Homo sapiens: one gene and its partners. The protein of the gene in region 3 purifies or fractionates together with the protein of the main gene of each other region. This does not show direct contact. Each region holds a gene or a part of one and is shown on either strand. Other genes may lie near its edges. The genes, in order: ETV4, TRIB3, COP1 and CUL4A.

Region 1 (7,511 bases), on a different chromosome or scaffold from region 3:
GGTTCTGGAGCTGGGCTAGAGCTGAAGAATGCAGAGGTGTCAGTTTCCGTGGGCTCTCAAAGACTTCCTTTCCCAGTGCCTGATTTCTCTCTGGCTCACCGGGCTTCATTCCTTGCCTGTCAGCTGAGAGTCCCCACAGTGGGCAGCTCCTAGGGCTGTGAGCTAGGGGTGGGCTGAGGTTGGCATTTTGGCAGCAGCTGGTCCATCTGTGCCTGGGTTTGAGATGGGAGGGGGAGGAAAATGCTCTCATCTCTCTACCTTGGAAGTCCCACCCCTTGGCCAGGGGTCTGGAGAGGGTACAAATGTCTGTCTGTGTCAGTGTCGGTGTGACAGCAAGTGTGTGTGTGAGAGAGAGAGAGAGAGAGAGTGTGTGTGTGTTAGTTACATGCTGCTGCCCTGTACATTTAAATCCAGTGGGTGGGGAGGTGGGGTGGGGATTGCAAGGCGGAGGTGAGGGGGGTGGGCGCTGGGATCTCCTTGGTTCCCTCTCCTTCCTTCTGAGGGAGCAGCTCAGGTTCCCAGCTGGTGATGGATGGCCAGGTCTGAGGGGGGGATGCTGAGGCCGATCGCTCCTTCTCACTTTCTCTGCGGAGACAGATGCAGCTGCCGGGGCCCTGTCCCCCTGCACCATCCCAACACCACCCCAGCCTCCTCTCCTGTCTCTTCCCACCAGGTCAGTGACCCCGGCAACCCATGGGGAGCTTTGGGGTGGCAGGGAGGGACTAGCTTCTTTGGAAACTTGCCAGTGGTGGGACGCATTAGGAGGAAAGGGGACCAGAGCCCAACCTCCCTTTCTCAGTTTGGTTTTTTCCAAAGCCCCAATTTGAAGAGAAGCAGCAGGGGGGTCCTGGTAGTGTGGGTGGGTCTGTGAAGACAGCATTTGGAGGAGGCACAGGTTGGAGCCGGGCAGATACAGGAAGATTCCAGTGTGGTTGCAGGTTCAGTGTCCTGCGTCCGGGCGTTGAAGGGTGAGTGTGAGTGCGGCTTTATGGAGGCAGCTCACATATCCTTGGGGTTGGGTTTTTGTACACAGGGGTGAATGATGTGAGGCTAGGAGGGCGTGTCTGATTTGGGGGTGCCTGGGATCTGTTGAGATGTTGGGGAAAGAATCAGGCTGCTACAGGGAGACCCAGGCTCAGGCAGGCTGAGCCCAATATGTGTCTGGCTATGGTAAAAGATATGCTGGTTTTTTGTCCAAGGTTCCTTTCCAGGCTTGTCAGGAGCCCTGAATCCTTGGGGAAAATGACTTTGTTGTCTATTTGGTAGTAAGGGCCATTGACTCTAGGCCATGACCCCTTTGTGTGAGGCTCAGGTCTGTGGATTCCCAGAAGCCCTATGGATAGGTTGCTGGGATCCTTGATCCCTCTGATACTGTGTGTAAAATTGCTGGAAGTGCACCATACATAAAGGTGTATGGATTTTTTTAGGAAGAGAATGACCCATAGCTTTTATCAGATTCTCAAAGGGATCGATCGATCTGCGCTCCCCTTTTCACAGGAATCACTGCTCCCCAACCCTCCTCCAAGGGCTCCAGTCCCTTTGCCCTTTGGCTGTCCCAATCATATTTGTAGGTCAAAAAAAGACCCCATGTGTGGAGGGCATGCATGGAGGGCACATTTCACCCTGTGCTGTCTTGCTGCTGCAAGAGTGAAGTAAAAGGAATTAGGGTGTGTGCATCCCTGAATATGCGTCCGAGTGCATGTACACTGGTGCCTCGGCATGTCTGTGGGGAGGGATGAGGTTAATCTCCTCCCTAATCTTTCCCAGCTACAATGCCTCCTTCTCCATCTTTCTGTCTCTTCCCCTTCCTGAAGACTCTTGGGGACAAATATGTCCCCTCCACAACTAGTGAACTGGTTCCTTCCAGTACAGAGGCTGCCAGGGTGGGGGCAGGGTAAGGGACAGCGGTGACACAATGGAGCAGAAGCTCTGGAGAATGCCTCTACCCCCTTCACCCTATGACTGGATCCTGGGAAGAGGGTGACCGAGCATATGTAGTGTGGGTGGCTAACCTATGGTGAGCTTCAGTGTATCTCTGTTTTAACCTCTCAGTTCTTCCAGAATCCAGCTTGGGAGACCCCCCAAGCCCCTCCTCTTTTTTTACTAACCCCCCTTTTTGAAAGGAGAGTCCCTAAAATTCTTTCTCTCTCTCTGGGCATTATGCTGTCTTGGCACTTTTCCCACCCCCTCCTTAATCATCTGCCTCGTCCCCAGACAGATAAACTCCATCTTAGTACCGGGATGGAGCTGGGGACAGACCCTGGCACACTGGCTTGGCAGCCAAGACTCAGCCAAGTTAACAAATAAATAAAGAGAGTGGTGTACACTTAAGACGAAACATGGTAATTAAAAATTCTCCTGCTCTCCAGGAACGCGAGGCTCAGTGTTCCTGTTTCTATCCTGTTGACAGTCTCTGGATGACTGAGGGCCCTGGCCTACCCCTTTGGGAGAAGGCCAGTGTTTGGGGGAGGGGCTGAGCTAGGACAGATTTCTCCTGGCTCTGGGAAGAGGATGGCACCACCTCTTTTGGGGTGTGGTCTGTGTGCTGGAGGAAGCCTCCTCCTGGATTCCGGGCCTGGAGGGGTCCCTGGTTAAACTGTCAGGCCCGAGGCAGGAAGAAAGGCAAGATGATGCTGAGGGTTCTCTGCTCTCCAGCACCAGTGACGCCAGCAAGAGATACCCCCAGCCCATTACCTCAATGGAAAGTAGCAGTTAATGAGGCCCCAGGGGTGGGGCCGGAATGCGTCAGCCACCCCTGAGTTCTGCACCACCCTTTCCCTTGGGACCCTTCTTGCCTAGTAGGAGGGAGGGAAATGTTGGTCACTCTGCTCCCATCACCCCAGCTTCCTGCCACCTTGGGGGATGTTGCCTCTGAATGGACCAGAGGGCACAGTGGGGAGCCTGGCTTTGCATCCCTGGGCAGGTGGACAGATTTGGCCTCTTACCCTCTATCCAAATGTGCCTATTTTTAAGGTTGTGGTGGCTGAAGTGAAAGGATTACCTGAGCCCAGGAGTTAGAGGCTGCAGTGAGCTCTGATTGTGCCACTGCACTCAAGCCTGACACAGGAGACTTCCTTATAATAGATTTTAAAATGCAGATGCCTGGGCCCCACCCCAGTCCTATGGAATGGGACTCTCCGGAGGAGGGGACTGGGAATCGTGTTTTTATTTTATTTTTATTATTGTTATTTGAGACAGGGTCTCACTCTGTTGCCCAGGCTGGAGTGCATTGGTGCTATCTTGGCTCACTGCAACCTCCACCTCCTGGGTTCAAGCGATTCTCCTGTCTCAGCCTCCAGAGTAGCTGGGATTACAGGCGAGAACCACCATGCCTGGCTAATTTTTGTATTTTTAGTAGAGATGGGGTTTCGCCACATTGGCCAGGCTGGTGTAGAATTCCAGACCTCAGATCGTCTGCCTGCCTCAGCCTCCCAAAGTGCTGGGATTACAGGCGTGAGCCACCACACCTGGCTGTAATCGTGTTTTTAACAACGTCCTGGTGACTCTTGAATCAGGCCAGTTTGGGAATGGTTGTCTTTTTGCCGTGTTTGTGCTCCTGAAAAGATGTGTGCTGGCTGTGTGTTTCTGTTTGTTCTTGCCAGCGGATTTCATGTCTCATTGATGTCTTTGGTCACTTCAGACCAAAGTATTATTATGTTGACTTGTCCTAAGTTCTCGTTTAGCTGCTGGTGGCTTGTGATTGTTAAACTCCCTCTCCCTAATGCTTCTGTCAAGAAATCAACTATCTATTAATATAAGCCTATGTTTATAAACACTTGGCACCTCTGATATTTAAAGCAAATTGTTGAAGAATATTCTTGCCAAGCAACATATCACAACCTAAAATATCCCCTGTGAGATGTGCTTTCCTGGAGAGGACCTGCCTCTAGTGTTGCCTTGTGTGTGGAGAGGGGGAGCCTGCAGGGAAGGGCTAGGATGGTCAGGATCTCTTCAGTGCATGCCCTCAGGCCCACAGTGCTGACTTCTGCCAGCCTGAGGACAAACGATTATTGCATGTTTATTCATGTAGTCAAGAAATAACAGCACTGAGCGTCTACTCTAACCCTGTGCTGGGTGCTGGGGCATCAGATGACAAAAAAGATAAAGCTCTTGCCCTCACAGAGCTTAACTTCCTGGTGGAGGAGATAGGTAGATAACAAACAGGTAAACATAAATTAATATATTCAGGTGGCAATATGTGCCAGGGAGAAAACAAAACATAGATGCAATAGAGAGCCAGGAGGAACCACTTTGGTTTAGGGGTGGTCAGAGAAGGCCTCTCCAGAGATGTCAAAGTGAGCTGAGACTCTGATGGTCAGGAAAAAAAGAAAAAGGCAAGAAAGCATCTGGGGAAGAAGGAACAAGCTCAGCAGCTTTGAGGGCTAGAAAGGAGACCAGAGTGCTGCAGATTCACAGGCAAGGAGAGGCAGGTCAGAGAGGTAGGCAAGGCCAAGTCATGCAGAGCCTTGGAGGCCAAGGGCAAGCGTTTGGATTTCATGCTTTAAATAACAGAGAGAAATGATTTTATTTCTGTTGTAAAAAGATCACTGTGACACCTAGGTGGAGAGCAAGGGACCATAGGAGGTAAGAATGAAAATAGGGTATCCTGGTAAGAGGCCGTGGGTGAAATCCAAGTAAGAAATGATGGAGCCTTAGCCTAGAGAGAAGCAAAAGAGATGGGATATGTATTTGTATAGGCCGGGGGTGTGGAGGTTTTTTCTAGCCATCTCATACCCCTCACCAGCCATTTTGACCTCTCTGGGCATTTTATCAGTTTCCCCATTGTCCAATCTGAGAGCAGTCTCCAGGGAAGGAGAGAGCAGTCTCCAGGGAAGGAGAGTCCAGCCTCCTCGGGCTACAGGTTCCACTGCATCACCCTAGAACCACTCTCTTCCTGGAATAATATCAGGAAGTTCTTCTTGGTGTCTACATTTCCTGCTGTGATCCATTTATTTTTGAGAGAGGGGCAAAAGTGGGCCAAGACTCTGGGATCAAGGGAGATTCTTAGCTGTATAACCACCTGAGAAGCCCCGCTCTGGGGAGGCCAGAATAAGAACTAGAAATCAGAGTTTGATGTTCAGGTTAGAAGCCATGGATGAGCTGCTGCTGTATTTCAGTTTTCCTGCCTATTCCCCAACCCAGCTCCACCCATCCTGGCATCCTGGGAGAGCTCTTCGGATCACCAACCTTGGGAATCCCTCCCCTCCTTAGCTGCACATTAAGGGGATGAGGCACCTATGTACTCAGCCAGTGTCCTTTGCCTTCTGCAGTGGTCCCAGTCACCAGCCTCCTGCTCTCCCACTGTCATCCTCCTTTTTTATTTTATTTATTTATTTTTGAGATGGAGTCTTGCTCTGTCGCCAGGCTGGAGTGCAGTGGTGTGATCTCAGCTCACTGCAACCTCCACCTCCCGGGTTCAAGTTATTCTCCTGTCTCAGCCTCCGGAATAGTTGGGATTACAGGCGTGCCACCACGTCCAGCTAATTTTTTTTTTTTTTTTTTTGAAATGGAGTCTTGCTCTGTCACCCAGGCTGGAGTGCAGTGGCCTGATCTTGGCTCACTACAAGCTCCGCCTCCCAGGTTCACGCCATTCTCTTGCCTCAGGCATACTCCTGCCTCAGGATTAGCTGGGACTACAGGCACCCGCCACCACACCCGGCTAATTTTTTTTGTATTTTTAGTAGAGACAGGGTTTCACTGTGTTAGCCAGGATGGTCCTGATCTCCTGACCTGGTGATCTGCCCGCCTCAGCCTCCCAAAGTGCTGGGATTACAGGCGTGAGCCACCGCGCCCGGCCTAATTTTTGTATTTTTAGTAGAGACAGGATTTCACCATGCTGGTCAGGCTGGTCTCAAACTCCTGACCTCGTGATCCGCCCACCACGGCCTCCCAAAGTGCTGGGATTACAGGCATGAGCCACCATGCCCGGCCTTTATTTTTCATTTTTTGGAACAGAGTCTCACTTTGTCACCCAGGCTGGAGTGCAGTGGCATGATCTCAGCTGACTGCAACCTCTGCCTCCTGGGTTCAAGCAATTCTCCTGCCTCAGCCTTCCGAGTAGCTGGGATTACAGGTGCCCACCGCCACGCCTGACTAATTTTTTAATTTTTTAGTAGAGATGGGAGTTTCACTTTGTTGGCCAGGCTGGTCTCAAACTCCTGATCTCAAGTGATCCTCCCACCTCAGCCTCCCAAAGTGCTGGGATTACAGGCATGAACCACTGCGCCCAGCCACCCCCCTATGTGATTTTATTTATTATTTAATTTTATTTTTCTTTTGAGATGGAGTTTCACTCTTGTTGCCCAGGCTGGAGTGCAGTGGTGCGATCTCAGCTCACTGCAACCTCTGCCTCCCAGGTTCAAGCGATTCTTCTGTCTCAGCTCCTGAGTAGCTGGGATTATAGGCTCCCGCCAACACGACCAGCTAAGTTTTGTACTTTTAGTAAAGATGGGGTTTCGTCATGTTGGCCAGGCTGGTCTCGAACTCCGGACCTCAGGTGATCCACCCGCCTTGACTTCCCAAAGTGCTGGGATTATAGGCGTGAGCCACCATGCCTGGCCGCCTCCTATGTGATTTTTAAATCCACAGGATCCCACTGCTTATAATGCCTGCCCATCCTAGATATGACTGTTGTGAGCTTTAAGGGAGTTTTGTAAACTCTGAGGGGCGAGGCTGTTTCACTTCAGAAAAATGGAGGAAATAAAGACAAAGCATCTAGAAGAAGAAAGACTGGAATCTGCTCAGACAGGTTCTGAGAACAGTCTTCCCTCCTGGGTCTTAGTGGAGCCCAGAGGTGGAAGACACTAGGACCTAGGGTGGAGCAGCCTTTAGTCTCAAGCAAGCTTGTCCAACCCGTGGGCCTGTGGGCCACTTTCAGCCCAGGGTAGCTTTGAATGCGGCCCAGGCCCAACATAAATTCCTTGTAAAATTTCTTAAAACATTATGAGATTTGTTTGTGATTTTAAGTTCATCAGCTATCGTTAGTGTTAGTGTATTTGTGTATTTTATGTGTGGCCCAAGACAATTCTTACAATGTGGACACCCCTGATCTAAAGGCTGTTGGTCCTTTCTTGGCTGTTGCTAATCTGCAGGGCTGTAATAATGGAGCCTCCCAGGGGACAACCAGGGCTCCGCCCCAAACTCACCTCTGACTTCTCTCTGCAGCTCAGGTACCAGACAGTGATGAGCAGTTTGTTCCTGATTTCCATTCAGAAAACCGTGAGTAGAGGTCCCTGGGGAGAGGGTATAGGGAGTGGAGGATGGCAGGAAGTGAGTCATAGGATAGAGAATCACAAGAGAGCAGCTTGTTCTCTCCTAAAACACAGTGGGGTTTGATCTTAAAGACCAAGGCAATAACTGGAATGAAAACCTTGGTTGAAATCTGGGGCTTGACATGTTCTTGCTGTGTGACCTTAGAGCAGACACTATCCCTCTGGTTCTCCATTGCCTTATATCTGAAGTGAGGGGCCTGGGCCAGTTCAGCAGAGTCCAGTTCTAGTGTTGTTTGTTTG
Region 2 (7,840 bases), on a different chromosome or scaffold from region 3:
GAGGTCCAGCCTTTGGCTCCTGCAATGAGGAGGGATGATGGCTTCATGTCCTGAGCTGGGGGAGAAGCCTGTATTTTGGGGACTGTGGAAGAAAACTGTTAAGTATTTCAGACCCTTATGTCTTGGCAGTGTCATGAAAAGTGGGTTTATACTGTGGAATAGTGGCAGTGCAGCCACTAACAATGAAGACAGTGCTAGTGGGAGGATAAAAGGTACCACCTCTGAGGAGTGCATTTTGACAATATCAAAATGAAAAACAGGCTGGGTGCAGTGCTTCATGCCTGTAATCCCAGTACTTTGGGAGGCTGAAGCAGGAAGATCACTTGAGCCCAGGAGTTCAAGACCAGCCTAGGCAACGTAGCGAGACCCTGTCCCTAAGAAAAAAAAAATTATCTGGTCATGATGGCACACAGCTGTAGTCCCAGCCATGCAGGAGGTTGAAGTAGGGGAATCACTTGAGCCCAGAAGGTAAAGGCTTCAGTGAGCCATGGTCAGGAACTCTAGCCTGTGCAACAAAGTGAGACTGTCTCAAAACAAAGCAAAACAAAACAAAACAAAAACAACGATGAAAAGCGTGTGAGCTTTGATTCAGCAATTAATCCCATTGCTAAGAATTTATTCTGTAGAGGTGTGTGTGTGTAAGCATGCAAATACACAGTTATTCCTGCAGCCCTTTTGACAGAAATAATTGGCTGTCTATAATTACAGGGCTGGTTACATAAATTATACTTCATCCACACAACGGAACAATGTGCAGCCATTTAAAAGGTTGAGGATGCTCTTTATAGGGTAATTGGAAGGATCTCCAGAGTGAACTGTTAAGTGAAAGGAAAGCCACCATTCACGCAGCTGTGTGACTGTGTGTGTGGTGGCTGAAGGAGAGGGCAGTAGGGCATGGTCAGGGCAGACGGGTTCTCTCTAGAACCCATCTGCCCACCCACTTAAACTCCATTCCAAGGAGGTGCATGCCCAGGTATGGGCATTGGTGCGAGAGACCTCAGCCTGGTTAAAGACCTTCCCAACAGTTCAAGGCAGGATTAACAAGGCAACATGAGTCAGTTACCAGACAGAGGCCCACCTCTCCAAGTACGCTGCTCCCAAATGGAAGAGCTGCCTTGGAAGGGAAGGCCTCCCCACATGAGTGAAAGGTCATGACTTTGGCTTGGTAAGAATGCAGTAAGGAGTGGCTGTAGTCAGATATTCCTGGGTTCTAATCCTGTCTCAAACCCTTTCTAGCTGGGGGGTACCCCTGGTCAAGTTCCTCAAGCTTTCTGAGCCTCAGTTCCTGTAAAGTGGGAACAGGATGCAAAGCTTACAGGTTTTTCGTGATGATGAAATGAAAACACAAATGAAGCATGTAGAGCTTATGGACCTGTTGCCAGGTAGGTGTCAGGAAATGGTCATTATTAGCACTCATCCTGTTATTCTTCACAGCAAGATGCATAAGTACCATCCTTGGGAGTCTTAGAAAGCTCCCCAGGTTCGAGGCTGGGATGACACTCCTTACATCTCAAGGCTGTTCTGAGTCACGCAGGATGATACCTGGCTGTGCACATGCTTTGTGCCCTGTGCAGCAGGAGACTGCCTGGAGTCCCTCTGGCCTGTGCCACATCAGTAGTCCAGGCTGCCTTGGCCCCGGCCATCCCTCAGAGCCTGTTGGGGCCTGGGATAAGCTCCACCCAGATGGGGACAGATGCGGTAACTGAGTCTATACATCTTGGGCAAGGCATTTTGCAGACCACACTGCAGAATAGAATCTGTGATGTGGAATGAAAGCAGCCCCTAATATCTACCTCTTGCTGTTCCCTGCCACACTCGGGACCCAGGGAAATGAGGGCGGGTTACATCAAGCGCAAGCGCGCGCGCGCACGCACACACACACACACACACACACACACAGCCCTCCCAGCTGTCACACCCATGGTCTACCCGAGCAAGGCCGCACCCCCACCCCGCCCCGCCCCCCGCAGCCAGGCCCCTCCCGTGGGAGCCCAAGCGAAAGGCGGCGGGTGTCCGAGTCAGAAGTTTCAGCGGAAATTGAAGCGCGGCCCTGGGACAGGAGGGGGGTGAGGCAGAGGGAAGGAGGTGGCTGTCGTCCCCCGCCCTCCCCGGTCTGCAGGCACAGCACACACCGCAGACACGCGCGCACCGTCCACCTGCAAACCCGGAGCCGCGCACTGGGGAGAACCAGCGGCCCTGCCGGGCCAGAGATCGCGCGCTGCGCCCCCGCTCCCACTCCCTCGGCTCCCCCGCTCCAGGGCACCCCAGCCCTGTCCCGGCGGTGTCCCCTGCACCGCCAACCCCTGCCACCAAGTGCCCAGCCCTCCAGACAGCTCTCACCATCTCCTGAGACACAGGTGCTCGGGACCCACCCTCACCCAGGACTCTCCCCTGCGGGTTCACGAGGACCCCCTCGGATCCCCCGCCACCCCCAGAGTCCTCCAGTGCCCCCCACAAGCCCCTCACCGCACCACACGACTCCCCTATCCCGCACTCACGCAAAACAGACCCCCGCACGCCCTCCTCTAGGGGTGACGGCCGGACACCTCCGTCCCTGGCTTCCCCAGCCCAACTCGGGCGACCCCACGCTCCGCGGGGCCGCGTCACCTGAAGCCCGGGGGGAGCACTCAGCCCAGGCCCGGATCAAAAGGGATCTGACCTGGCCGCGCCCCGACGGCGGGGTCTGTGAAAAGGTGTGTAAGGGGCGTGCGTGCGTGTAACACGCGGCAACACGCAGACGCCCAGAGGCTTCCGGCGCCCCCTTCCCCGGCCGCCCCCTCCCGCCCCCCGGCCTCCGGGCGAGTCCGCAGGCCGCACCCCGCCGAGTACCTCGCCCCGTCGTTCCGCGTGGGCCCGGGCGCCGCCGGGGCTCAGAGCCTCCAGGGCACCAGCAGGTGGGCCGGCCCGCTGCGCTGCTGCCGAGCTCGGGATCCCAGCCCAGCTCCAGCCCTGCCCGGGTCCTAGCAGCGGACGCGCGCGGAGCCGCCTCCACTTCCGCTGCGAGTCTCGTGCGCGCCCGGCCCCCGGTCCGGGTGATGCAAACCGGAGCTAATCCCCCGGTCCGGGTGATGCAAACCGGAGCTAATCCCCCGGTCCGGGTGATGCAAACCGGAGCTAATCAGCCGCCGTCTGATGCCCTCGGGCCCGGGATCGCACCATCCCCCGCGCCGCGCCCGGGCCTCTCTCCTCTGCATCCGCTGCACCTGGGACCCGCCCTCGCTGGCCCCCTAGGGGCGTCTGGTCAGTGCAGACATCAGCCACGGACTCTCCCTATCACCTTGGAAAAAAAATTTGCTCTTTTTTTTTTTTTTTTTGAGACAGAGTCTTGCTCTGTCGCCCAGGCTGGAGGGCGGTGGCGCGATCTCGGCTCACTGCAAGCTCCGCCTCCCGGGTTCACGCCATTCTCCTGCCTCAGCCTCCCGAGTAGCTGGGACTACAGGCGCCCGCACCACGCCCGGCTAATTTTTTGTATTTTTAGTAGAGACGGGGTTTCACCTTGTTAGCCAGGATGGTCTCGATCTCCTGACCTCGTGATCCACCCGCCTCGGCCTCCCAAAGTGCTGGGATTACAGGCGTGAGCCACCGCGCCCGGCCAAAAATTTGCTCTTCTGAGCCTCGGTTTCCCCACCTATGAAATGGGAAGAACATTCCTCCTTCTCAGGATGGTGCTTAAAAGAGCAAACAGTGACTGTTGTCGGGGTGCTTCCCCTTTTTTATAAAGCACATTCCCAGCACTGCCTTATAAAACCTTTAGGAGAAGTGGACATGCGGGAATCTCCATTCTCCACATTCTACTGAGAGCCAGCCTGAGGCCCAGCTATGGGCAAGTGGTTCAGAAGCTTCAGGAAGGCCTATGGACTTAAGAGCTGACTCTGGGCTCAAAGGAACCACCGTGGCGCCCTTGGGAGGCCTAAGGTCTGCTGAGCTTCCCCGCGTCCCTTTGCTAGAGGCAGTGCGGCCTAGTGGTGAAGAGCCCCTAGAGCCAGCTGGCCTAAGAGTGCACTCCACCTCCGCTCCAACCCACAGTGCTACCCCAGAAAAGCTACCTAAAACCCTGCCTCAACTTCCTGCTCCATAAAATGGGCTCATAATTGCGCTCACTTCATAAAGTTGTTGTGAGGATTAAATAATTTAATATGTGTAAGACGCTTAGAACAGTGTGTGGCACATTGCGGATGCTCAGTGGAGTGTAAACAATGGAGACAGAGAGGGAAAGAGGCCTTTAATATGCTTGCACCCAAGGCCTGGGAGGGCTTGGTGCTACTTGATTTGGGGTGAAACACCCCTCTGCGTCCTAGGCGTCCAGCACCTTTCTTTTTTTTTCTTTTTTTGAGGCAGAGTTTCACTCGTTGCCCAGGATTGAGTGCGATGGCACGATCTCGGCTCACTGCAACCTCCACCTCCCGGGTTCAAGCGATTCTCCTGCCTCAGCCTCCCAAGTAGCTGGGATTACAGGCATGCGCTACTATGCCTGGCTAATTTTGTATTTTTAGTAGAGACAGGGTTTCTCCATGTTGGTCAGGCTGGTCTCGAACTCCTGACCTCAGATAATCCACCTGCCTCGGCCTCCCAAAGTGCTGAGATTACAGGCATGAGCCACCGCGCCCGGCCTGGGTCCAGCACCTTTCTTAGAAATCCCTTTTGATCTGAATTCACCAGTGTCAAAAAATAACTCCTCAGCTGGGTGAGCTGGCTCATGTCTGTAATCCTAGCACTTTGGGAGGCCAAGACGGGAGGATTGCTTGAGGCCAGGAGTTTGAGAACAGCCTGGATGACATAGTAAGACCCTGTCTTTACAAAGAGAAAAAGATAGCGGGCATGGTGGTACGAGCTTGTGGTCCCAGCTACTTAGGAAGCTGAGGTAGGAGGATCACTTGAGCCCAGGAGTTCAGGTTACAGTGAAACGTGATTGTGCCACTGCACTCCAGGTTGGGTGACAGAGTGAGATCCTGTGTAATAAATAAATAAGTAAGTAAGTAAAATAACTCCTCTAGAGGCTGGGCGTGGTGGCTTATGCCTGTAATCCCAGCACTTTGGGAGGCTGAGGCAGGTGGATCACGAGGTCGGGAGATCAAGACCATCCTGGCTAACACGGTGAAACCCGTTTCTACTAAAAGTACAAAAAATTACTAAAAATACAAAAAACACACCTGTAGTCCCAGCTACTCGGGAGGCTGAGGCAGGAGAATCGCTTGAACCCAGGAGGCAGGAGTTGCAATGAGCTGAGATTGCGCCATTGCACTCCAGCCTGGGCGACAGAGCAAGACTCCGTCTCAAAAAAAAAAAAAAAGTAAAATAAAATAAAATAACTCCTCTAGGCAGAGGCTGGATGGGAGGCAGGGTGGAGTCATATTTGTTTTCCTGTTTCCAAATCCCTGGGGACCAGCTCACCTGTGTCCCAGAGCCTTCAGGGTATACCAGGGCATTCTGGGATCTCATTTAATCCTGGCAACTCCCCTGCTGGGGAGGGGTGAATAAACTCATCCTCTATCCTGGGACACCGAAATGGTTAGGAAGATCCCACAGCTGTGAGGGGTGAAGAAAGGTGGGAGGGCTGTTTCCTGAGCACCCCTCTGAAGGTGTGCTGGGTTTGCTTGTACATTCCCAACTAACGTTGTTTTGTGCTGTGTCAGCCCCTGTTCTAAATGCTGGGGACTCAGCAGTGACCAGAATGATCCACCCCTGCTCTTACAAATCTTATAAATCAGTGGAGAGATAGACCATTATCAGGAAAATAAAATTAAAACCATGATCATTTAAAATAGATTGCATCATGCATTTTCTTGAATAAAATAGGAAAGACTTGTTCTCCGTCATGACTGAGGGTGGCCATTTTCAGCAGGGCTTATCAGAAAGGTGATGTTTAAACTAAAAGCTGAGGGAAGAGAAGGGGTGAAGAGTGCAAAGATGTGAAAGGGAGACAGAGAAAAACAGTAAGTCACCTCCATTCTGCAGACAAGAAGAGTTAAGGTAAGGGACCTACCCAAGACCACCCAGCTGGTCGTATAAGACTGATTTCAGGCTGGGCGCGGTGGCTCACGCCTGTAATCCCAACACTTTGGGAGGCTGAGGCAGGCGGATCACCTGAAGTCAGGAGATGGAGACCAGCCTGGCTAAGGTGGTGAAACCCGGTTTCTGCTAAGAATACAAAAATTTAGCCGGGCGTGATGGCATGTACCTGTAATCCCAGCTACTCGGGAGGCTGAGACAGGAGAATCGCTTGAACCCAGGAGGCGGAGGTTGCAGTGAGCCAATTGCGCCACTGCATTCCAGCTTGGGCAACAAGAGTGAAACTGCATCTCAAAAAAAAAAAAAAAACAAAAAGACTGATTTCAGATTTGAACTTGGGGCAGCTGACTCCAGTGCCCATGCCATCCTGGGATATTTCACGAGCTTTGTATCCCTGCAGCCTCCACATGGACCTATGGGTATCGTGACAGGAACGGCACCCTGGGTATGGCCCCCAAATTTTGGTGACTTGTCACAGCTGGGTTTGTCAAATCCCAATTCTCTAGACCATTCTGTGTTCCAATAGAAATATAATGTGAGGCTGGGCGCAGTGGCTCATGCCTGTAATCCCAGCACTTTGGGAGGCGGAGGTGGGTGGATCATGAGGTCAGAAGATCAAGATCGTCCTGGCTAACACAGTGAAACCCTGTCTCTACTAAAAATACAAAAATTTGCCGGGCATGGTGGCACACACCTGTAATCCCAGCTACTCGGGATGTTGAGGCAGGAGAATCACTTGACCCCGGGAGGCGGAGGTTGCAGTGAGCCGAGATCATGACACTGCACTCTGACCTGGGCGACAGAGTGAGACTCCATCTCAAAAAAAAAAAAAAAAATTAAAATATTCAATAAAATAAAAAATTCTCAGTCACACTAGCCACATTAGCCATACTTGAAGTGCTCAATAACCACATGTGGCAAATGGCTACTGCTATGGTTTAAATGTGTCCCCCAAATGTCATGTGCTGGAAACTTAATCCCCCAATGTGGCAGTACTGAGCGGTTGGGACTTTTAAGAAGTGATTGGATCATGAAGCCTCTGCCCTTATGAATGGACTAACCCACTCATGGATTAATGGATTTGTGGGTTTTCACAGGAGGAGAACTGGTGGCTTTATAAGAAGAGGAAGAGAGACCAAAGCATAGCATGTCAGCATGCCCAGTCCCCTCTCCACGCTATACCCTGTGCCACCTCCAGACACTTCAGAGACCAGGAATAAGGCCCTCACCAGAAGTGCCCCCTCAATCTTGGACTTCCTATCCTCCATAGCTGTAAGGAATAAATTCCTTTTCTTTCAAAATTGTTCAGTTTCAGACATTCTGTTATAAGCAACAGAAAACAGACTAAAACCACTACCATATTGAGCACTACCACCCTGTACCAAGAATTCCTAACACATGGTCCAGGGGTACAGCAGAGGCAAAGAGTCTAGGTAGGCTGGAGTTTGGCTCCTAGATCTACACCAGAAACACCAAATAGCCTCAAGCCTCAGTTTCTGCATCTATAAAATGCAGTTAATTATACCTCCCTTGCATTGCAGTCATAAGGATTCAATGCATTGGGACTGCCTCATGTCATAGTTGTATCACATTTCTTGGGTTCAAAACCACATCTATTTTGGAAAAGTTACTTCAGCTCTTTGTACTTCAGTTTCCCCATCTGTAAAATGGGGATAACAATAGTTCCTACCTCGTTGGTTTGCATGAGAATTAAATGACAATATTTGTAAAGTGACTGGAATATAAATGCTATATAAGCATTTATTTAGAAGCGAGGAAAAGAATGGTGACCAACCTCCCAAAATTAAATGCAGAAATGTACTCTTTTCTG
Region 3 (7,511 bases):
AGGTCAGGAGTTTGATACCAGTCTGGCTAACATGTTGAAACCCCATCTCTACCAAAAATATAAAAATTAGCCAGGCATGGTGGCACGTGGCTGTAACTCCAGCTACTCGGGAGGGTGAGGCAGGAGAATCGCTTGAACCCGGGAGGCAGAGGTTGCACTGAGCCACAATTGTGCCACTGTACTCCAGCCTGGGTGACAGAGTGAGATTCCATCTCAAAAAACAAAACAAAACAACATGGGGAATAATAATAATCAGTAATCACAAAGGACTGACATGAGTTTGAGTAAATATTTGTATTTCTGCCGATGAAAGGAATTACAGTTAAGAGGGCCAGGGAGAAGGAGGTGCTGAGAAAGAGATTCAAACAGTACCTTTTGCATCATCAGAACCTGAAGCCAAGAGTTTAGGATCCATCAAATTAAAGTCAACACTCCAACACCTCTTCTCATGCTCCTGGAAGCAGAAAGAAGACAGTAGCCTCAGATAGAATACAGATCTCAAAATGAATAAAGCAAGAAAAAAAAAAACCTGATATCAATTTATTGTTACGGGGAGAGGGAAAGACAACAGGCTAGAAAACAAATGAAAAGCAAATAAGATGTTGATATAAAGTACTTCCAAAACTTTTTATACATTTACCAAAATTATTGCTTTTAGAAATTTACCTGATACATTCCATAAAGACCGAAGTCTGAAGAAATGCTTTGGAAAAGCATATGGTACCAAAAGTGGGAGACAGGAAAAAAAAGCATTTGGTATTGCATAGGTGTTACACAGGTATAAAAAATACTAAATAGTGACTTCAAATCTGTAATTATAAGGCACATGAAGTTCTAAAAGTTTTAACAAACCAAATGTATGATTCATATAACATGTAACTAGTACCCTTATTTACCTGATAGACCTTTGACCTCTGTCCTGTGAATCCATCCCATAAAATAACAGTGCCTTCATAATCACTGCTAGCTAACAGGTTCTTATGGTAACTACTCCAACTGATACAGCTGAAAGAAATACAGTTAAAAGTTACTTTACATAAAAATAAATAACAATGGGATAAAAATAATTTTAATGTGTTCAGAAAGATTTGCACTATTTTAAAATGGTCTCTATCAGTTCACAATCATTATTCTGCCCACAACATACCTGGGAAAAGACATACCAATAATTTTGAAATTTTAAAAATAAAAATTAACAAGTAATGACCCTAACCACCTTTTACTGTGATCACTAGCTGTTAAGATGGATGTGAGCCTAGAGCTATCACTGGCCATCTTTGATACATGAGGAAACGATGTCTATCAGTGAAGGTGATACTATCCAGAGGGCTCAAGGCATACCATGGCAGAATGACAGACCTGATGAGACTGTTTAACCCCCTGGATCCAGTTGTGCCAAATCATATAAGCCAAATAAACTACAGTGAATTGGGTTTCTGTATTTACATCCCAAAAGTCTTGACTTGACTAATTATAACTTATGACTAAAATTCCAATTAAAAGCATCTAAAAGTTAGAATCAAACTTTTATCATTTATGGTTTTGGCTATTCTCAAGTACTCCAGAAGTCTACAACATCTAAAAACTTCTGCTGAGATACATATCTGCATCACGCATATAGTAAAGGGAATGCATATTATGGAAGAAGTTACTTAGAAGGCAGTTAATGTAGGTAACTTCTAAGACATGAACACAAGGTCTTTTGCTTTCTACTAGTTGCATTGATGCTAAATTCCAGAGACTGGAAGAGTTTATTTGCATTTTTAAATATACTTAATTAGAATTTCTGGTAGAAATTATCTGGAACAATTAAGAGACACATTTTGAATTTAGGTAGACTTGAGTTCAAATTCCAGATCTGTTACTTATTAGCTGTGGCTCTGGCTAATTTAGTACACTTTCACAGTAGATGTGCTCCGAATCTATTTTAGGCATCCTTAGGTATTGATCCTTTCAGCCCCAGGCCCACAGCTTTCAGCCTTGAGCGCTTTCACCATTTATTCCAATATATCAGGAAGTATTGCACATTTTTACACATACAAATACAGAACAGGTAGACAGCACATTTAAACTTTCTAATCCACGTTTTCATTATGTAATATATTATGAGTACTTGCCATGGGCCAAGTGTTGTTCTGAGTGCATTATGGGGATTTTTTAAAAGTACAATCCTATTAAATAAGTATTACTATTGTGACCTCCATTTTATAAATAAGGAGCAGGAAATGTTTAAGGGCACAGACTCTAGAACCAAACTACTTCAGTCTGAATCCTGGCTCCTCTATATAGCAGGTGTATAATCTTAGGCAGGTTATTTACCTTCCTGTGCTCAGCTTTCTTTGTATAAAATGGAGCAATAATGGTAACTATTTCATAGGTCTGCTAAAGACCAAGCACTTAGGATAATGCCTGATATATAAGAATTCAATAAACTTGTATCTAATTCATGTTATATCCTCTTCACTTAGGACATAAACTATAACAGATTCTCAATGATGAGTGCCACAAATGAATGGGGAAGCTCACCAATTATCGATATAGTATTTTTATAAATGAACTAGAAAAAAGAAAGTTATAACAAATAAATTATACAAAGACTGTAACAAACATACTATGTATGCCATTCATTAAAGATAAAAAAGGTTCAAGGATGGCTATTTTGAAAATGTTCAAAGTTCTATACAAAGTTATTATTAGATGATTTCCTCATATAATTCTCTTTTAAAGCCAGTGCTCATGAGAACAGCTTGGGAAGCTTGTTTAGAAGGAAAAAAAAAAAAAAAAAAGCAGATTCTAGAATTCTTCTGAGATTTTTTGGGGAGCAGATCAGGAGTAGAGTCTTAACATACTGTTAGTGTTTAAGAGTATTTTAGGTTTGAAAAGCACTGCTTATAAAGTATAATCTCTAATACAGAAAACATAAACACCATTCCTTCAGTGAAAAGCAGAATATTCTTGTAAAAAAAATTCTTAAAACTAGAAACAATTCTAATATGTTGAGATATGTGCAGGCTAGGGGAAAAATTCCTGATGTTCAAATACTATTCATAAGCTACATTAATCCTCATTCAGTACTCCATAGAGTCTCCAACAACCATGTCCAACAAAGACCTTTATTTGATTAAGTGAAAGAAGAACTTTAATTTGGCAACCAGAAAAAAAAAAAAGGCTAACCTCACAAGAAAAAAGCAACCAATATCTGTAAGAAAGATGATATAAGTAATAATATATACTCTGTATACATAGTACAATAATAGTGTTCACCATGAGTAAAAAGTGTCATGCAAAGGTAAAATAATCTCATGATAATTACATATGCAAATTGTTACATCTATACTGCATCATGTCAAGAAAATAATGTAAATACCTGATTTTCGAATTGCAGGTCATTTCATTCTCAGGGTAATGAATATCCACTGCATCCTGGATGACAGTGTCATATTCATAGACTTTAATCTTCTTTGTAACTCCAGCAATCGCAAAATAGTCACAATCCCGGTCAAATTCAATACTAAGGGGAAAAAGTATGTAATGACAACATTTCAGAATTTGCTATTTTCTATTTCTAAAGTAATTCGGTCTACAAGGATAAAAGATCTACTTTAAATACCTTCAAATTGTACTAGACCTCATATCCAGATTAAGTAATCAACACATATCAAATTAAAAGTTGTTGAGATTTGTGTAATATAAAACTTTTAATATATACATTTGTATATCTACACAATTGTGCACAGGTGTACTTTTGTTCCAAGACACCTGACATGCTTTTCATTCAGTTCTAATAACCATATTACAGCTTACTGAGAAAGATTTAATGGCGTGAATCATTTGATATACTAAAAGTATGCCAAAAGACAATTATCAACTAATTTTTCCATACATTCTACTTATTTCCCTGCCATTTTGTGGAGGTAGTAGAATTTCACAATATTAAATTTTATTTTTAATAAATAAATTAGTATATAATTTGAATTACTGAAGCAATTGGGTGATGACAAGGGGATGGAATACATATAACAGAACCACTGAATTATCATTACTTTTCCCCAAATCCATACCTAATCCCCCTCCCCAAATATCTCTCTGAATTATAAAACCCCAATACACATTCCTCATATCACAAAAGAGGTTAAATAAATAAATAAATAAATAATCTCCTTTCCTTCAGCGTTATTCACTCCTCTCTTGCTGATCATTTTTATATAAGCTCCAAAACAAGCTATTTGAAAGCAAGTACAAGATCATACTCGCTTTTACAGAACTTGCAGCCTAAACACAGTTGTTACATAACCAGCTGGAAATCTAATTAGCCCAAAGGTAGTAAAAGTTGAAATGAATCATCACATACATTATTCCTCAATATGATTTAAGCATCTTTTCTAGAGGTTTAGCGATAAGAATTCTCACTGATCTACAATTAATTACACAATAATACCTAATATTCATTAATCATTCACTTACTAAAACATTTTGCATGTATTACCTCATTTAGTCCTCATAACAACCTGTGATATATGTATTATTATTATCTACATTTTACAGATGAGAAAATGAAGATTAGAGGTGAGGTAAATTGCCCAAAGTTAGTCAATCTGTAAGTGGCTGAGGTGGGATTCAAACACAAGGTAGTCTGGTTTCAGAGCTGGTGCTAATAATTACTATGCTTTATTACAGATCAAAGCTCTTAATGTAAAACTCAAAGTGTAAAGGCTAAAGGTTTAAAGGTTTAAAATCTATGTGTATGAATGTATCTTCAATATCTATGTATGTGTGTTTCTTCTCTCAAAATGCCTAGCTAGTGCTCTGTATCTATTAAGCATTCATTTAATGCACAAAATACAAACACCTACATACAAAAATACAAACATCCATTTTCTTAATATCCATTCACAGAACAGTTAATGATTAATGATTTATTAAGAAGCTTGCTGAACTGATGATGGTAAGTAAGAAAAAGACACATTAAGAATATTTCAGGCTGGGTTCGGTGGCTCATGCCTGCAATCCCAGCACTCTGAGAGACCGAGGTGGGAGGATCCCTTGAGTCCAGGAGTTTGAGACCAGCCTGGCAACATAGTGAGACCCGATCGCTACAAAAAAATGAAACAATTAGTGAGGCATAGTGATGGGTTCTTGTCTCCAGAGACTTGGGAGGCTGAGGTGGGAGGACTGCTTGAACCCAGGAATTTGAAGCTGCAGTAAGCCATGACTGTGCCACTGCACTCCAGCCTGGGTGACACAGCAAGACCCTGTCTTAAAAAACAACTACAACAACAACAAGGACTATTTCCCTTAAAGACACACATTGATACGCCCACTTTTCTTTACAGCTTTAAATGCTTCCTTAATTTTATATAATTTTTTAAAGAATTAAAATTCTTTTTTTTTTTTTTTTTTACAGAGATGGGGTCTCACTATGTCGCCTGGGCTGGTCTTGAACTCCAGGGCTCAAGCAATCCTCCCACCTCAGCCTCCCAAAGTGCTGGGATTACAGATTTCAGGCGTCAGACATGGTGCCCAGCCAATTTAAAAAAAAAATTTATTCAGTTAAGTGTCACTGACTAGGGCACAATTCAGCAAATGTTCCCTCCAGTAAAGTATGATACTATAGCAATGCAGTAGATTTATTTGTACAACCTCAATTGAACTGCTGCCTCAGCTACTACTTGCTGCCATGTGGATTTTAATGCACCATAACTATAATGATGACAACTATTCATCTATCCCAACTCAATTTATACCCATAGTCTCATGTCACTGAAGGAGAAATACTACTTTATCTGGTAAAGGACAGAGTTATTATCAGAACTGAAATCCTGTTTTTAATTTAGGAGGTTTTGGTATAGCTGAGACTTCAAGTGAACTAGTTATCACTAAATACTTTTTCTCCGCCTACTCATATACATAGCTAATCAACACCATTCCAATGTTGTGCCAGTAAAAGTATGCCATTACTAAACTATTAGTTTTAACATATATAATACGTTTAAACACTAACCTATCAAAATAATAGCTTAAATACATTACAGGGAGAAAACTGACACATAAGTAAAAATGCTGTCAAAAGAATTAAGGGCCGGGCGCGGTGGCTCACGCCTGTAATCCCAGCACTTTGGGAGGCCGAGGCGGGTGGATCATGAGGTCAGGAGATCGAGACCATCCTGGCTAACAAGGTGAAACCCCGTCTCTACTGAAAATACAAAAAATTAGCCAGGCGCGGTGGCGGGCGCCTGTAGTCCCAGCTACTCGGGAGGCTGAGGCAGGAGAATGGCGTGAACCCAGGAAGCGGAGCTTGCAGTGAGCCGAGATTGCGCCATTGCAGTCCGCAGTCCGGCCTGGGCAACAGAGCGAGACTCCGTCTCAAAAAAAAAAAAAAAAAAAAAAAAAGAATTAAGATGATGACCTAAATATGTCTATTATTTCTTCTGCTGGTATCCTGTTATTCAAGACAGCTCTCTCTCTTTTTTCTACATGTTATTATTTAGTGACATTAGCTAACTCTTAACTCTCATATTAAAAAGTTAACTTTTTGTTTTGATTTCATTGCTATTATTTTCTTACATTTTGGTTATGTTTTGTTTTTAATATATTAAGGTATCAAGAACCTGTAGAGTATGTTTTTAAAAATATTTTGGGGGTAACAAGATCCTTTTATACTGTAAAAATAGATTTTAATAGAAATATTAATCAAAAAGTATAAAGAATAATATTATTTCTAGAAAATTTTGATTAAAAGGGAAAGAAAGACAAACAGGTCCCCCCCCTCAAACCACCTTTTTTAGTGGAAGAACTTCCACATCACTAAGACTCAGGATTTAAGGACTTCTAGATACTGAAACATTTGCTCCCTATCTCTGACATATTTAATCATATATATTCTCAAACATGAACATAATGAGATTCTAAAAACAGATCATGAACTAACTGAAATGAACACTGTAATTTTCAGGTGCAGAAAGCTTTCTAGAACTAATACAAAACAGATGACCTCTTATATTAACAGTATGATATTTCAACTACTTTTATTATGAAATCTGATAACCCAAGCAAAAGTACTTCAAAAGTTAAACAGTGACTAGTTAGGCTGAGACTAAATAAAAGGTAAACTAATTAACTGAAATGTTGCTTATGCAATTAAATTCAAAAACAAACTTTAAGTCTTACTACTGCTATACAACGTTCATTTCTGCCATCCACTGTCAGCAGTAATAATTAAAACAAGAGATTTATAAAAATTTACTGCATGACAAATTCAATTTCACAGAATTTGTTTTTAATTTCAACATACAAGTATACTTTTGAAAAATCGTGTTTCTGGGGACATAAATTGCATTTTTCTTTCACATTTTGAAACATTTCAACTGTTAAAAGAGTGATTTATATCAACAGCTGAAATACGTAATTCAGCTGTAGGAAACTAGCTGTATTCTTTGTCAAAAATGTCATTAGTCAAGTGATTAAGCAGCAAGGCAAGAAACTGCACAGGACAGCTGATTAATGCATACTGC
Region 4 (7,511 bases), on a different chromosome or scaffold from region 3:
GTGGTGGCGCGTGCCTGTAAGCCCAGCTACTCAGGAGGCTGAGGCAGGAGAACTGCTTGAACCCGAGAGGCAGAGGTTACAGTGAGCCGAGATCGTGCCACTGCACTCCATCCTGGGGGACAGCAAGACTCCATCTCAAAGAAAAAAAAAACCCAACTACCCGAGAGCAGAGCGGGCGCCCTGGTCTGCCACACTCTACCCCTGAGAGCAGAGTGGGCGCCCTGGTCTGCCACTCTCTACCCGAGAGCAGAGCAGGTGCCCTGGTCTGCCACACTCCACTCTTGCTCACCTCTGCTTCGCGCTGGGCCTGATTGTTTGCAGTGGCAACAGGAGACTTGCTCCAGCTGGTGGGAGGAAGGGGCAGTGAACCTGATGGTGCTTTTGGAGCTTCCCAGGGCCCTGAGGACGGCACCTCACCTCTGCAGGGAAGGGGGCAAATGTGGGCTGATGGACAGTGGCACTTCCACCAGACTCTTAAGTGTTCGACTATTTAGTGCATCTCAACTTTATTCCCTTGATGGAATGGGAGGCTCAAACTGCACAACATGGAATCTGGGGACTTTCCCTCCAAAGCACGTGTGGCCGGTCCTGTCCCTGAGAGGCCAGGCGTCATCAGAGTTCAGTATTTCCTGGGTTGATAAATACATGTAAAAAACGTTTCATAATACTTTCCCGGCTTATCCTGCATCCCACACGTGGCAGGACAGTAAATCTCAGTTCTGAAAACAACGCGGGTTGACAGGCCTGGGCTGACTTTCATAAGCAACAGCAACAGTAGACTATTACCGTGGTGGAAAACGCGGTGTAGGCTGTAAACGCTGAGTAAGTTAGTTATTGTTATCATTTCCTTAAAATCTTGTGATGTAACCTTGACCGCTACTACTATGAGAAAAGTGTTCAGCTTTCCATGTCCCATCTACCTCTTCCCTTCCTGAAAATATGAACAAGCGCGCACCATCCCTGGGAAGGAGAGTTTTAGGGCTCTATCATTTCTGCAGTGGCAATGAGCAACACCTGGAATAAAGAGCTTCACATTTGCCAGTTTTTCTACATTCAGTGTATACACAAAGCACCATGAATAATGCAGGTCAAATGATATGACTGAACATAGAATTAAACATGCTTTGTCAATTGTTTAGCAAATACTACAAATTTAATTATGCTAATGTTACATTTACCTTTACTGGAAATTTCAGCTGATTATATAATTCAGAAACTAGAAGATTATGACCAAGAGTCTTTCTCATCTTCATTATTCTGACGATAGCAGCATCAATCTGATATTGTCTATCCTGAAACACTCTCTCAGTGGTGCTAACCTGTTCCTCAACCTGTATAAAAAAGAAAAAAAAAGTTAAGTGTAAAACTGTATTTTCTTTTTATTTTTTGCGATGGAGTCTCACTCAGTTGCCTGGGCTAGAGTGCAATGGTGTGATCTCGGCTCACTGCAACCTCCGCCTCCCAGGATCAAGCGATTCTCTTGCCTCAGCCTCCCGAGTAGCTGGGATCACAGGCACCTGCTGTCATGCCCGGCTACTTTTTGTATTTTTGTACAGGCAGGGTTTCACTATGTTGGCCAGGCTGGTTTTGAACTCCTGACCTCAGATGATCCGCCCACCTTGGCCTCCCAAAGTGCTGGGATTACAGGTGTGAGCTACCACACCTGGCCTATATTTCAATATTAATGACCTGATGTTACCGAATTTGATGGGAAATGGTTTTTTTTTTTTTTTTGAGACGGAGTCTCACTCTGTCACCCAGGCTGGAGTGCAGTGGCGCGATCTCGGCTCACTACAAGCTCCGCCCCCCGGGTTCACGCCATTCTCCTGTCTCAGCCTCTCAAGTAGCTGGGACTACGGTGCCCCCCCACCATGCCCGGCTCATTTTTGTATTTTTAGTAGAGACAGGGTTTCACCATGTTAGCCAGGCTGGTCTCGATCTCCTGACCTCGTGATCCACCTGGCTCGGCCTCCCAAAGTGCTGGGATTACAGGCGTGAGCCACCGTGCCTGGCCGGAAATGTTCTTTTGATGCAAAGAAAGGTCAGACATTGGATGAATCCTACTTTATTATGCATGTTTACTTGTTGTAGTAAAAGGTACCTTCCCAGAATAGCAAAACTCCAAAACCAAAACTTAAAAAATATTTTTAAAAGTTATTTTCCTTATAAGAAAGCTGCAACAACTCTATGTGTGATGTAGATTAAAACTAGCAGCACAGTAAACAAAACATAATGACCATCAGGATATATTCCAGAAATGTTAAGTGTTGATCAACATTAGGAAATCTGTGAATATAAGTGAGAGCACTGTAGCAGTTGAAAGGTTAGATTACATGACCATCTTGATAGATGCTGAAAAGGCATGATAAAATTGATTTTTTGATTTAAAACAAACATTAGCATACAAGGATGAATAAAAAAGCATCTGAACATGATAAAACATGGTTATCAGAAACAAACAGCAAATACTAGAGACAACTTAACCTTAGTCCAACAGGAACCTGATGGGGATCTGCAGTTGAAATGAGGGCTGGGGGAAGGTCTGTGCATACATATGAGGCAAGTATGCTTCAGGATGGGAGAGACTCCAAGCTTTCATCACATTTTCAACAGGATCCATGACCCCCAAAAAGTTAACATCCTCTGAACTAGAGATAAAATTAGGAAGCTCAGCTGCACTGCTATTCCTTAAAAACATTACTTTAGAGGTTCTAACTATGCAATACAGGAACAGACTAAAGAGGTATATTGAAAAGGTGCAGACAAAACGATCATTATTTGTAGATGAGCTGGAAAATCCAAGAAAATCAACAGAAAAACTTTCAAAGCTAAAGAGTTTTGTAAAGTGGCTGGAAATAAAATAAATATACAAAGACAAATAGCATTAATACATACATTCTGATAAAAACCGTCAGAAATGTAAAGAAAAAAGGTCCCCTTTATAAGATATCAGCATTTCATTAGCCTGTCTTGCTTAAAACTCTAGTGGTTTTCCAAATGCTTCATGGATCTGAGCCATCTTCAGAGGGTCCAGCTGTGGCTCCCTGATCAGGCCTGTCTGGCTCAGCTTCCCCTTTTGGCAACGATGCTGCAGCCAGAGGCCTTCTTTCAGTTCCTGAGCAAAGCTAGTCACTTCTTCAGGAAAGCGTTGGCTGACGACAGTATTTAATTAGACTCTCCTGCACTTCTCTATCCTAACATTTTCCTCCACTCTTACAAGTTAGTCAATGTGTGTGATCCTCTGCTACCTCTCTGCTGGAAAAGACTGAACACTCCTAGAAACAAGGACTTATTCTTTATTGTTAATGGATGAATTCTCAGTGCTTCACAGAGGACCTGGGCCACCACAGATGCTCAATAAGTATTTGTTGAATGAATGAAAATTTATGACTAGCAAGAAATATGCAAGACTTACAGAAGAAAACTAGAAAGCTCTGAGAAAAAGATTTGTATGTATTTACATATATACACATATGTATGAATCACAAGATTTAATATGATAAAGATAAAAGCTCTGTAAATTAATGCAATATGGATTAAAAATGTCAATGTTCTTATTTGGGGGAGCAAAGGCGTGATACAATTATTGTCAAGTTCATTGGAAGAATAAAGTTATAGGAATAGCTACATTAATTAAAAGAACCTGGTGCCGGGCACGGTGGCTCACGGCTGTAATCCCAGCACTTTGGGGGGTCAAGGTAGGAAGACTGCTTGAGCCCAGGAGTTCAAGACCAGCCTGGGTAACATGGCAAGGCCTCATCTCTACAAAAAATACAAAAATTTAGCTGGGCGTGGTGGCATATGCCTGGGGCTGAGGTGGGAGGATCGCTTGAGCCCAAGAGGTTGAGGCTGCAGTGAGCTATGATCACACCACTGCACTCCAGCCTGGGCGACACTGTCTCAAAAAACAAAACAAAACAAAACAAAAAAAATGGCTGGCTATGAAATAGACACAGAATTTATAGAAGAGAATTGAGAAACTGACCTATATGAATTTGATACATAATAAGGTGATAATTCAAATAACTTGTTCAAGGATGATATTTTAAATTTGGTTTTGGAAAGGATGGGGGCAGTTAGACTGTTTTCAGATACTAAAATAATTTCTGCAACATGAAAAGAAAGATTTAAATGTAAAAACTTCTAGAAAAATAACATAGTATAAATGTTTTTTAAAACTCTGGTTAAGGGAATTTCTCTCTTAGGCCAATGATATGGTTTTGAATATGTGTCCCCTCAAAATCTCATGCTGAAATGTGGTCTCCAGTGTTGGAGATGGGACCGGGTGGGTGGGGGCAGGTCCCTCATGAATGGCTTGGGCCCTCCCCTTGGTGATGAGATCTGGTCGTTTAAACATGTGGGGCACCTCCCTCCCTGTTCTTGCTCATGCTTTTGCCACGTGAGACACCTGCTCCCCTTGCACCTTCCACCATGACTGGAAACTTCCTGAGGCCTCGTCAGAAGCTGAGGTGATGCTGGCACCATGCTTCCTGTACAGCCTGCAGAACCGTGAGCCAATTAAACTTCTCTTCTTTATAAATTACCCAGTTTCAGGTATTTCCTTATAGTAATACAAGAATGGCCTAATACAGCATTACACGTTAAGTCAGAAACCATAAAAGAAAAGGAGACTATATTTGAGAACTTAAAAACTGTTATGTGAAAAAAAAACCAATAAAAACAACAAAATTATCTGTCAAAAATGACAAAGCAGGCTGGGCATGGTGGCTCACGCCTGTAATCTCAGCATTTTGGGAGGCCGAGATGGGTGACTCACCTGAGGTCAGGAGTTTGAGACCAGCCTGGCCAACATGGTGAAACCCCGTCTCTACTAAAAATAGAAAACTTAGTTGAGTGTGGTGGCACATGCCTGTAGTCCCAGCTACTCGAGAGGCTGAGACAGGAGAATCGCTTGAACCCGGAGGACGGAGGTTGCAGTGAGCGAGATTGTACCACTGCACTCCAGCCTGGACGACAGAGTGAAATGCAAAAAAAAAAAAAAAAAAAAAAACGAAAAAAAAAAAGGGACAAAGCATTAATATCCTTAATATATAAAGAAAACCTACTAATCAGTAAGAGAAAAAACATTATAATGAATGCATATGACTTGAAAAGCAATTAGAAAAAGAAAAATACAAATGGCTAAGCATAAAAAGAGCAGCATCAACATGTATGAAGTGCTTACAGGTGTGTGGCAAAGAGCTTTCTAAACGATTCATTTAATTCTCACAACTTGAGGTAGTAGTATGTCTATTTTAAATATGAGAAACTGAGCATTAGAAAGATTATATAATTTGTATAAACTACTGAGTGGTAGAAAGATGCTGTAAAGAATCAGAAATCAAAATGAAAACTGCAACAAACTATCTTTGGGCTGCTCAGAACAGGGTGAGCGAAGGACAGGTGGAGGTGGGGGCAGACACTGTGCTCTGGTGAAATCTGCCAGACTTCAACTTGGAAAAGAGCAAACTAAGACAAGTACACATTATTTTACCCAGCAGCTCCAGAGCAAGAATCACACTAAAGAAACAATCTAACAAGTGCACAGAAATGTCTGTGCCAGGGTGTTGAACGTAATCTTATTTTCAGGAGGGGCAGTGGAGGAATGTTAGTGCCTGTGGCCGAGGGCACTGCCAGCCCTGGTGGGTCTACACAACCGGCACTGTGCTCCTGCAACAAGTCCTGGCCAGGAGAAGACTGCGATCAGCAACGAAAACTGGCTACAGGAAGGCCCTGACAGGTGCCATATGTACAGTGATCCCAGGTGTTTTTTCTTTTGTAGAGTTTGGGGTCTCACTGCATTGCTCAGGCTGGCCTCAAACTCCCGGGATCAAGCGACCCTCCCGAGTAGCTGAGACTATGGGTGCATGTCACTGTGCCTGGCTTAGTGATCCCACTAAAAAAAAAGTTTACATACACTCACACCACAGAAAAAGGCTGTGACCACAAACAAAAAGGGCAGTAGTGGTTACCTTCGGGAGAAAGAACTGATAGACCTTCTCACTTTTGCCCACTATAAAAGGTGCACCCTCAAAGGAGTTAAAAACTTAAGTCCACATAAAAACCTGCACAGAAATGTTTATAGCAGCTTTAGTCATCATCACCAAAACTTGGAAACAACCAGATGTCCTTCAGTAGGTGAAGGGATAAGTTGTGATGCATCCAGACAACGGAGAATCCTTCAGTGCAAAAAGCAGAGTTACCCAGTCATGAAAAGACACGGTGAACCTCAAATACGTTCTAATAAATAAAGAAGCCAATCTGAAAAGGCTATATACACTATGACTCCAACTGTACGGCATTCAGGAAAGGGCAAAACTATGGTGACAGTAACAGGGTCAGGGGTTGCCAGGGGCTCGGAGGGAGACAGGGATACAGCGACAGAACATAAGAGAATTTTTAGGGCAATGAAACTGTCCTGTATGATCCTATAATGGTGGATACATAACATTATACATTTACCCAGACCCACAGAATGTACAACACCAAGAGTGAACCATATCAGATTCTATTACCATAGAAAGTGTGGATAATTTTCGAAACCCTATGACCATGGGGAGTTCTGGCTTAGCACACAACTTTTTTGTGAATAGGAATAACATTAAGTGGCTTTTTTTCTGATTTTCTTTCCTACTGAGAATGTGAAGTTAATGAAAGCGACAGGAAAATGAGTACTCTTATAAACATTACATAGTGAAATTGGATTATTGTAGAAATGTGCTTCAGGCCTCTAACAGCCAAAAACATTACTACAAAAACAAATGATTCCCTGCTAAACCCCCTATAAGTAAAAAGAGAAAGTTTATACATACAGTTTCCTTCATCTGAATTTGATTGATCTTTATTCTAAACAACTTGTGCTTGAACTCTCCATTAAAAATGAACTTGTCTCCATCTTCCACTTCCTTTCCTTTGGGACTTTTAATCAGCACACGTGCTTTGCCACAGGCCAGGGACTGCAGCGTTCTGCGCAATTCACTATCCTCTGAATGGGAAGCAAATGCAGGCAAAGGCTGGCGTTAAACGAATGAGACTCAACAACAGTAAACCAATCATGCTACCAAGTCTATGTCTTATCTTAAAACAAATACATGCTTTAAGAACAACTCATGGAGCTATGCACTCTGCAGTTTTCGTACCTATCCCCGTGGCCATTTTTATCTCCTCAAAGCTGAAGCCATCTCCCTCGTTGAACATGAGGAGCACCAGTGTCTGGAAGAGGGACACCTGGAATTCCTTCTTCCCCTGGAAGAGAAGGCCTCATCACACCTCTGAAGCTGTGCATGTACAATCTTTGAAAAATTAAAAGAAGCTTCTTTTTGCTCTCAAACTTTTTTTTTTTTGAGAAGGAGTCTCGCTCTGTCACCCAGGCTGGAGTGCAGTGGCACAATCTCAGCTCACTGCAAGCCCCACCTCCCGGAATCATGCCATTCTCCTGCCTCAGCCTCCCGAGTAGCTGGGACTACTGGTGCCTACCAAGCCCGGCTAATTTTTTGTATTTTTAGTAGAGA

The links.
Region 1: the proteins of COP1 (region 3) and ETV4 purify together in Homo sapiens (affinity purification with mass spectrometry; 5 studies listed by BioGRID and IntAct, with this or other methods). This does not show direct contact.
Region 2: the proteins of COP1 (region 3) and TRIB3 purify together in Homo sapiens (affinity purification with mass spectrometry; 7 studies listed by BioGRID and IntAct, with this or other methods). This does not show direct contact.
Region 4: the proteins of COP1 (region 3) and CUL4A purify together in Homo sapiens (affinity purification with western blotting; 9 studies listed by BioGRID and IntAct, with this or other methods). This does not show direct contact.

Annotation. Positions count from the first base shown.
Region 1 is NC_000017.11:43,536,133-43,543,643, reverse strand, and holds part of ETV4 (ETS translocation variant 4), read left to right. Parts: intron 1-6,869; exon of another isoform or gene 6,870-7,164; coding exon 7,165-7,218; coding exon of another isoform or gene 7,219-7,232; intron 7,233-7,511.
Region 2 is NC_000020.11:376,159-383,998, reverse strand, and holds the start of TRIB3 (tribbles homolog 3), read right to left. Parts: upstream 3,240-7,840; 5' UTR 2,830-3,239; intron 2,705-2,829; exon of another isoform or gene 2,499-2,704; intron 1,567-2,498; exon of another isoform or gene 1,454-1,566; coding exon of another isoform or gene 1,373-1,453; intron 1-1,372. UniProt on the Homo sapiens protein: Inactive protein kinase which acts as a regulator of the integrated stress response (ISR), a process for adaptation to various stress. Inhibits the transcriptional activity of DDIT3/CHOP and is involved in DDIT3/CHOP-dependent cell death during ER stress.
Region 3 is NC_000001.11:176,042,814-176,050,324, forward strand, and holds part of COP1 (E3 ubiquitin-protein ligase COP1), read right to left. Parts: intron 3,512-7,511; coding exon 3,368-3,511; intron 1,006-3,367; coding exon 897-1,005; intron 455-896; coding exon 373-454; intron 1-372. UniProt on the Homo sapiens protein: E3 ubiquitin-protein ligase that mediates ubiquitination and subsequent proteasomal degradation of target proteins.
Region 4 is NC_000013.11:113,254,427-113,261,937, reverse strand, and holds part of CUL4A (cullin-4A), read right to left. Parts: intron 7,246-7,511; coding exon 7,140-7,245; intron 6,986-7,139; coding exon 6,813-6,985; intron 1,332-6,812; coding exon 1,179-1,331; intron 1-1,178. UniProt on the Homo sapiens protein: Core component of multiple cullin-RING-based E3 ubiquitin-protein ligase complexes which mediate the ubiquitination of target proteins. As a scaffold protein may contribute to catalysis through positioning of the substrate and the ubiquitin-conjugating enzyme.